Homo sapiens: one gene and its partner. The protein of the gene in region 1 purifies or fractionates together with the protein of each later gene. This does not show direct contact. Each region holds a gene or a part of one and is shown on either strand. Other genes may lie near its edges.

Evidence for each region.
Region 2: the proteins of CCZ1 (region 1) and MON1B purify together in Homo sapiens (affinity purification with mass spectrometry; 2 studies listed by BioGRID and IntAct, with this or other methods). This does not show direct contact.

The regions. Positions count from the first base shown.
Region 1 is NC_000007.14:5,912,070-5,915,883, forward strand, and holds part of CCZ1 (vacuolar fusion protein CCZ1 homolog), read left to right. Parts: intron 1-773; coding exon 774-885; intron 886-3,814. UniProt on the Homo sapiens protein: Acts in concert with MON1A, as a guanine exchange factor (GEF) for RAB7, promotes the exchange of GDP to GTP, converting it from an inactive GDP-bound form into an active GTP-bound form.
Region 2 is NC_000016.10:77,194,074-77,197,887, reverse strand, and holds part of MON1B (vacuolar fusion protein MON1 homolog B), read right to left. Parts: intron 3,554-3,814; coding exon 2,734-3,553; intron 2,354-2,733; coding exon 2,206-2,353; intron 1-2,205.

The DNA of each region.
Region 1 (3,814 bases):
TCAGCCTCCCAAGTAGCTGGAACTACAGGCATGAGCCACTATGCCTGGGTAATTCATTTTGTATTTTTAGTAGAAACAGGGTTTCATCATGTTGGCCAGGCTGGTCTTGAACTCCTGACTTCAAGTGATCCACCTGCCTTGGCCTCCCAAAGTGCTGGGATTACAGGTGTGATCCACCATGCGTGGCCTATTATCTTTTTGGTAAAGATAATATGGACATTGAAATATCTTTGTGCCATCTGATTGACAGTAATCAACAAAGGAAAGTTTGTTGTTTCCAATGAGTTAAAACTTACTTCAGCATACCCTTTTTTTTTTTTTTTTTTTTTTTTTTTTTTTTTGAGATGGAGTGTCTCTCTGTCGCTCAGGCTGGAGTGTGGAGTACAGTGGCACGATCTCAGCTCACTGCAGCCTCCATCTCCTAGGTTCAAGCAATTCCCCTGCCTCAGCCTCTTGAGTAGCTGGGATTGCAGGTGCCCACCACCACGACCAGCTAATTTTTGTAGTTTTAGTAGAGACGAGGTTTTGCCATGTTGGCCAGGCTGCCCTTGAACTCCTGACTTCAGGTGATCCACCCAGCTCAGCCTCCCAAAGTGCTGGGATTACAGGCATGAGCCACCACGCCCAGCCAGCATATTCTGATATGGTGTTTGCCAAATAGCACCTGGCATCAAAAGCAACTGGTGTGTATGAAGTGGGAGTGTGTTCTGTTTCTAGATTCCTGATTCTCCTTCACCTCGTTGAATCAAGTCATGTCTGTTCTTGCTTTTAAGATTTCTTACCGGACCCTTGAACCTCAATGATCCAGATGCAAAATGCAGATTCCCCAAAATTTTTGTAAATACAGATGACACTTATGAAGAGCTCCATTTAATCGTTTATAAGGTAACAACTGTTTTCCTTCCAGCGTTAATGATTGTGCTGAAGTGGATCTTTCTTGCATGTGTACACGAGTGCATGTGCAAACCTCTTAAATGTTTCTTGGAAAAGATATTGGAAGTTCTGATTATGGTAAAACTCAAAATGGGTGTTCTTCCAGCGTAATAAGTTTATTTTCAGCTCCTTTTAAACAGTTTTGTTATTAGTGAAAGAGGAACTGTTTAAGATTGTGATTTATAAACGTGTGAAGTCTCACGTGCTCTCAAACCAAAGGCTGTCAGAGGTTGGTGCTGCCTGTTCTCGAAATGGCTCTGGATGGGGGCCGTAGCCACGTGTCTGTGCATATGCTGCTTTTGCTCTGATTTTAAAGCTGTAGGCTTGCTAATTCCATAAGGATTGTATTTTGTTTCTGTCAGGACATGGTCTTGTAAGGATATGTACTCAGGTTGTGTTTCTAATTAAAGGCAGTTTTTGATTCAAGAAAGAAGACGGAGCATGTGCACGTGTTTCTCCTCTTTCCTGCCTGAGGCTGTGGAGAAGTTTTCATTTATAAAGGCTCAGAAATGATGCCGTGGGGGAACAGGAAGGAGCGGGATGTGTCAGGATGAGGGAGTCCTGTCCCTCTCTGGAAGGTAGACGGGACTTGTAAACCATGCCTGATAGAGGGCGGTGCCGGAGCAGGCCTGGAATATGAGTGGCAACCCTGTGCTAAGGCAAGGACCCACAGCCCTGTGGAAGCCCAGAGAGGCTCCTGACTTGGAGGAGGTCACCTGAGGAGTCAGAGTGGGGCCTGGGCCTGGAAAGGTGGGGAAGGGAAGTGAAGTGTGGCAGAGAGGCCAGTCAGCCTCCCCTTCCCCCATCCTTGCACAGACAGGCCCACAGCTGAGCATCCATCCCTGGGTGACAATCGAGGGTCTGTTTAAAGAAAGGAAACAGTCTGAAGAGACCCAGAGTGGCTAACGTGGATGTCTGCCCCTGAGAATGAGGCCCTGCTCATTCTGGCATTTCTTTCTCCCAGACAGAACTGAGACCTTCATCCTACACTCAGAGTGAAGCCTCCATCTCTGGTCAGCCTTCTGGTTCCCTCATTGTTAAATATGGCTGCAAAAACAAAACTAGAGGTCTCGAAAGAAACATGATTCCGAGGACAGACAAGAACTTTAAAAATTAGTATCCACTAATTAGAAGAGTTGTATCTATTAATATAAAATTGAAATGGGCCAGGTGCAGTCCCAGCACTTTGGGAGGCCAAGGTGGGAGGATCACTTGAGGCCAGGAGTTGGAGGCCAGCCTGGGCAACATAGTAAGACCCTGTGTCGACAGGAAAATGTTTAAAAATTAGCCAGGCATGGCAGTGCTCATGTGTAGTCCCAGCTACTCAGGAGGCTGAGGCAGGAGAACCGCTTGAGCCCAAGAGTTGGAGGCTGCAATGAGCTATGATCACACCACTGCATTCTAGCCTGGGTGACAGAGTGAAACCCTCTCAAAAATAATGAAACTGGTATCAACAGTTTCATATCCAGCACCAGACATTATGTGACAGTGGAAGAGAGACTTTCAAAGTTCTGAGAGAAAATGAATTTGAGCGTAGAGTTCTTTGCCATGCCAAGCTGTCAACCACAGATAAGACAAAAGAAAGACATTAGCCAGGGCATGGTGGCTCATGCCTATATCCCAACACTTTGGGAGGCCAAGGTGGGCGGATCACCTGAGGTCTGGAGTTCGAGACCAGCCTGGCCAACATGGGGAAACCCTGTCTCTACTAAAAATACAAAAAATCAGCCAGGCGAGGTGGCACACGCCTCTAATCCCAGCTACTCCGGAGGCTGAGGCAGGAGAATCACTTGTACCCGCGAGGCGGAGGTTGCAGTGAGCTGAGCTTACGCCACTGTGCTCCAGTCTGGGCAACAGAGCAAGACTCTGTCTCAGAAAGAAAAAAAAAACACGTTCAACATGAAAAGCCTCAAAAAGTTTACCGTCATGCACCTTTCCTGAGGGTGTTACACAGGGTCATCCGTCAGCAGAATAAGTGAGCACACCAAGAAGGAACACTTGGGAATCCAGAACAGTAGTTCTCATGTGTGAGACGGTACAAGGAAATCTTGGGGTGATAAGGCTCTTCAGGTCTGCTGGCGGCACCCCACCTCCAGCAGCTCCGTGACAGCAGGAGGAGGGAGGGCTCTAGGGTTCAAGCCGCCAAGATAAAAAGATGTTTCATTCATCACATGGTGTGCTTGAGAGTCACTTAAAGTTGGGCTGTGACAGACTGGCAGGGAAGGGGAGATTGCAGGAAGAGCATACAGAAAGATGTGGTCTGAAAAAGCAAACCAAAATGTTGGAGGTGTAATTCAGAGCAGGAATTGGAGTAGGAAGAATGTCCGTTTGTGTATCGAGTGAAAGTTTGAGACCCCATCTCAAGAAAAAAATCATCCTCCTTTGAATGACCCAGGTAATGGCTGAAATCTCCATAACCCTGGTGTGTAATATGCTGTCGGCTGCATTTCTATTTTTAGAGTCAATCTACAGACATATTGTGGGGTGTGATGATGGGATTGTGGCTATGTTAAAGGGTCCTTACCTTTTTCTTAATGACTTTGAGATACAATGCACGTACCATACAACTCACCCTCGTACACTTAAAATGTACAGTTCAGTGATTTCTAGTTGCAAAGTTCATGAGTCTCCAAGACCATCCTCACTTCTGACACCCACTGCGAGTTTGGGAGTCCCCGTGACCACCTTTAGGGTAAGAGTTCTCTAGAAGTACTACAGGACTCAGAAAAGGCTTTCTACAGCAGTACCCCCGAGCCAAAGGCCATGTGTTCCAAAACCCCCGGGAGGTGCCTGAAACCGGGGACAGTACCAAACCCTTCACTTGCTGTGTTTTTTCCTGTACATACATGCCTGTGATAATGTTTATAAATTCAGTACAGTA
Region 2 (3,814 bases), on another chromosome or scaffold:
GTGTGGGTACTCTCTAGACCTGTTTGCTCATTGGGAACTGGGGAAAACAGTAACAATGTTTAATATTCTGTCAGTAACCTATTGTGTACAAGGTCCTGCTCTAAGCTCCTACAACTATGTTTTCATCATCTACAGCCAGGGAATAATATAAAGAGGAACTCAATTTATGCCTCATACCACATGGAGAGGCCTGACCCCACAAGGTCACTAGCGCCTTTCCTGTGCCACCTCCCAGAGCGCTCCCCTTCACTCCCTCTGCTCCGGCCACTCTACCCTTTCCTTGCTATTCCTCAAACATAGCCAGGCTTGGTTCCACCTCATAGCATATCAGTCCTTTCCCTCTGCCAGGTGTACTCTTCCTCCTAATATCCACGTAGCTCAATACCTCCCTACTCCACTCAGATGCCATCTGCTCAGGGAGGCCACCCTGATCACTTGGTTTAAAATTCTGCTCCTAACATATATTTTGTTTGTTTTTGTTTTTTTGTTTTTGACGTAGAGTCTTACTCTGTTACCCAGGCTGGAGTGCAGTGGCACGGTCTCGGCTCACTGCAACCTCCGCCTGCCAGGTTCAAGCGATTCTCCTGCCTCAGCCTCCCGAGTAGCTGGGATACAAGCGCATGCCACCACATCCAGCTAATTTTTTGTATTTTTAGTAGAGATGGGGTTCCACCCTGTTGGCCAGGCTGGTCTCGAACTCCTGACCTTGTGACTCGCCGCCCACTCCCCCCAACTCCCACCCCGACTCAGCCTCCCAAAGTGCTGGGATTATAGGCGTGAGGCACCGTGTCTGGCCCATATCTTGGTTTTAAAATTCCAATCTCTACTAAAAGGTATAAGGGCTCCATGGAAAAATGGCTGAGTTGAGGACTGGAATAGAGAAAGTCAAGTAAGATGTGCTCACATAGTGAAGGGGACGTGTCAGAGACACAGGGATCAGCCTGGCTAAATCAGGGTACCCACCGGCTAAATCAGAGGCAATCTGAACACCAAAATAAATGCTAGAGAAGGATTTTAGCTCACTGAATTAAAGAAAAATCCATGAGACAATATTGATAGAAAATTAAAAATTCAATAAATAGGAGAAGGAAAAGTTATTCCTTTTTGTTTTTGAAATGGAGTCTTACTCTGTCGCCCAGGCTGGAGTGCAGTGGCGCGATCTTGGCTCACGGCAACCTCCACCTCCCAGGTTCAAGCGATTCTCCTGCCTCAGCCTTATGAATAGCTGGGACTACAGGTGCGCACCACCACGCCCAGCTAATTTTTGTATTTTTAGTAGAGACGGGGTTTTGCCATGTTTGCCAGGCTGGTCTCGAACTCCTGACCTCAAGTGATCAGCCTGCCTCAGCCTCCCAAAGTGCTGGGATTACAGGCGTGAGCCATCACGTCCGGCCCCATGTTACTCTTTATAGTAAAATCCCAGCCAATAAATGTAGAAAGAATGATGGAGTTAGGAAAACCACCATCTGACCAGGCGTGGTTTTCACCACGCCCTTTATAACTCTTTATAAATATAAATATAAAAACTCTTTATATTGTTTTTGCAGCTTCTAAGTCTAAAGTTATTTGAAAATGAAAGTTAAAAAAATTTAAAAACAAAATTCTTAGCCTAGGACAATACCTGATCCACAGCAGTCACGCAATAAATTAATAAATATGCATTACATGGCAGGTGCCATTTCTGATGAGGCCTCCTTCACTGGCCTCCCTTAGTAGCTGACCTTTAGCAAACCCATAGGAAGTGAGGGCTGGAGCCCAGAGGAGACCAAAGGGAAGGATACCCCAGGTGGAGGGCACAGCAAGGGACCACGCCTGTAGTCTGAGGAGTGCTGGGGACTCATGGAGTCACAATGAGCTGGTGATGAATGGGGTGCCTCCAAACACATGGATTGGGCTACTGGGGAATCGGCAGGCACAGCAGTGGTAGTTAATGGGGCCTCTGGAAAGTCAAAGACACTGTCCTGGTTGCTAATCTGGGAGAAGCACACAGGAGGGTGAGGCTAATGTCGGATTAGAGACACGGTCATTAGTTGTCAGGGGCTTCAAAGATGTGTGTGTAAAGGCAGGGACAGTGTTGCAGGCAAGGCACAGCCCAGCCAGAGGCCTGCTGTGTTTGGTGGAGGCACTGTGGCTGGAGGGGATACAATATAGGGAAAGGAGGCTTGAAGTGGGGAATTAATTCACTCAGAGCCCTGCCCAACTTACCCAGGCCAGTAGTGTCTCCTTCTCAGCCACGTGGTAAATGAGGCGCAGGGGTCGGGAGGTGCTGTGGAGACGAGCATGCAGGCGGTGGTACAGGTCCGACAGCCGCTGCCGCTCCTCCTCTCTGCTGTAGGGGGCCTCTAGCTCAGGGCTGCCATGATGGAGGGAGGTGGAGGACAAGGTTAGTCCAGGGCCTTCTTGGCTGGCCCATTTCCTCCCTCAGTCTAGAGATTTCAATGAAGTTAGGGAGCTGAGCCTCTCCCATGAGACTTGAGGATTCTCAGGGGTTGGAGGCTGACCTTCCCTCATCAAACTAGGAGATTCCCTGAGTACTAGGGCCCTGCTGTCCACCAGAAGAGGGGGATTCCTTTAGGTCTGTGGCTGATGCTCCATCATCAGACAGAGACTTGTTCTCTTCCCTCTTTCTTAAGCATGGCTGGTTATCTCTCCTGAGTCACATCCCTGAGATGCTGAACTTCCTGGTTTGACAGGCCTTCCCACCCAGCCAGTTGCCTTAGGGTCAGGGCCTACCTGGTAAACTGGGGCAGTTGGCGGTGGTGGTCAGGGATGTCCAGCGGCTTATACAGGAAGTGCCGGAGGCCCGGCGCCCCGACAGCCTGCACGCTGTAGGCAGGAGCACTGGCTGATGAGGCATTAGAGAAGCTGGCAGCCTCCCCAAGGGCACGCATGGCACCAAGGGCATGCATCCCATCTTCAACCAGGCGCCGGCAGGCGGCCATGGCATGGAAGGCTTCACGTTGGGTGCCAAGCAGCAGCAGGCAGACAGGCATAGCATCCAGGCGGGCCACGTAGGCGTAGAAAAAACCATCAGGGTTGAAGCGGGGCAGGCACACAGGTGCCCAAGCCTCACCCGCCGCAAAGGCTGGTGCACCCACCCAGTCGAGCAGCAACTGCAGGTCAGCTGGGTCCAGCCGGCACTCGGCCAGCACATTTCGCTCCTGGGCTGCTGTTATAAGTCGACCGCCTACTGCCAGCACTGACAGCGCCAGGCCAGGCGCTGTGCAACGTCGGAGGAGCGCACCTAGTGCGTCTCGCAGCGGGCGGGCAAGGGGCACACAGCGCACGGCACCCAGGAGCAGGGCTCCTGGGTCCTGCTCCATACTGTCCAGAAGTCGGTCCAGTGTGCGCTCTGAACCAGCCAGCAGGCGGCGGAGGTCATAGTTCTGCTTGTGTGCGAAGATGCGGGCGACACTTGCACGTGTAAGTGTGCTCACGATCTGTGCGTGCACAGCTAGCAGCTCCCCCCGCAGCTGGGCTGCTGACTGAGAAGTCCGTGACATGGCCACGAGCAACAGTGGGCCCTGTTGTAGGAACACCAGCTTGTGGTCCTCTAGGGAAGGAAGGGGTAAGAAGGGGGGGTACAGCTGGATCAGGAATGACCAGAGGGAGACAGTGGGGCTCTTCTGCCCTCTCCTACCATACACACACCAGGCCCGAGTCCACATGCTCACTCTGTGGGCACCTGGACTGGGGTAAGGACAAGCTGGAGGAATCTGGACATTTGCAGAGACATGATGGGATGGACAAAGGAACAAGTAGGTTAGATACACAGCAAAGACCACGGGCAGGCGGGTAGAGATGGTACAAGGGC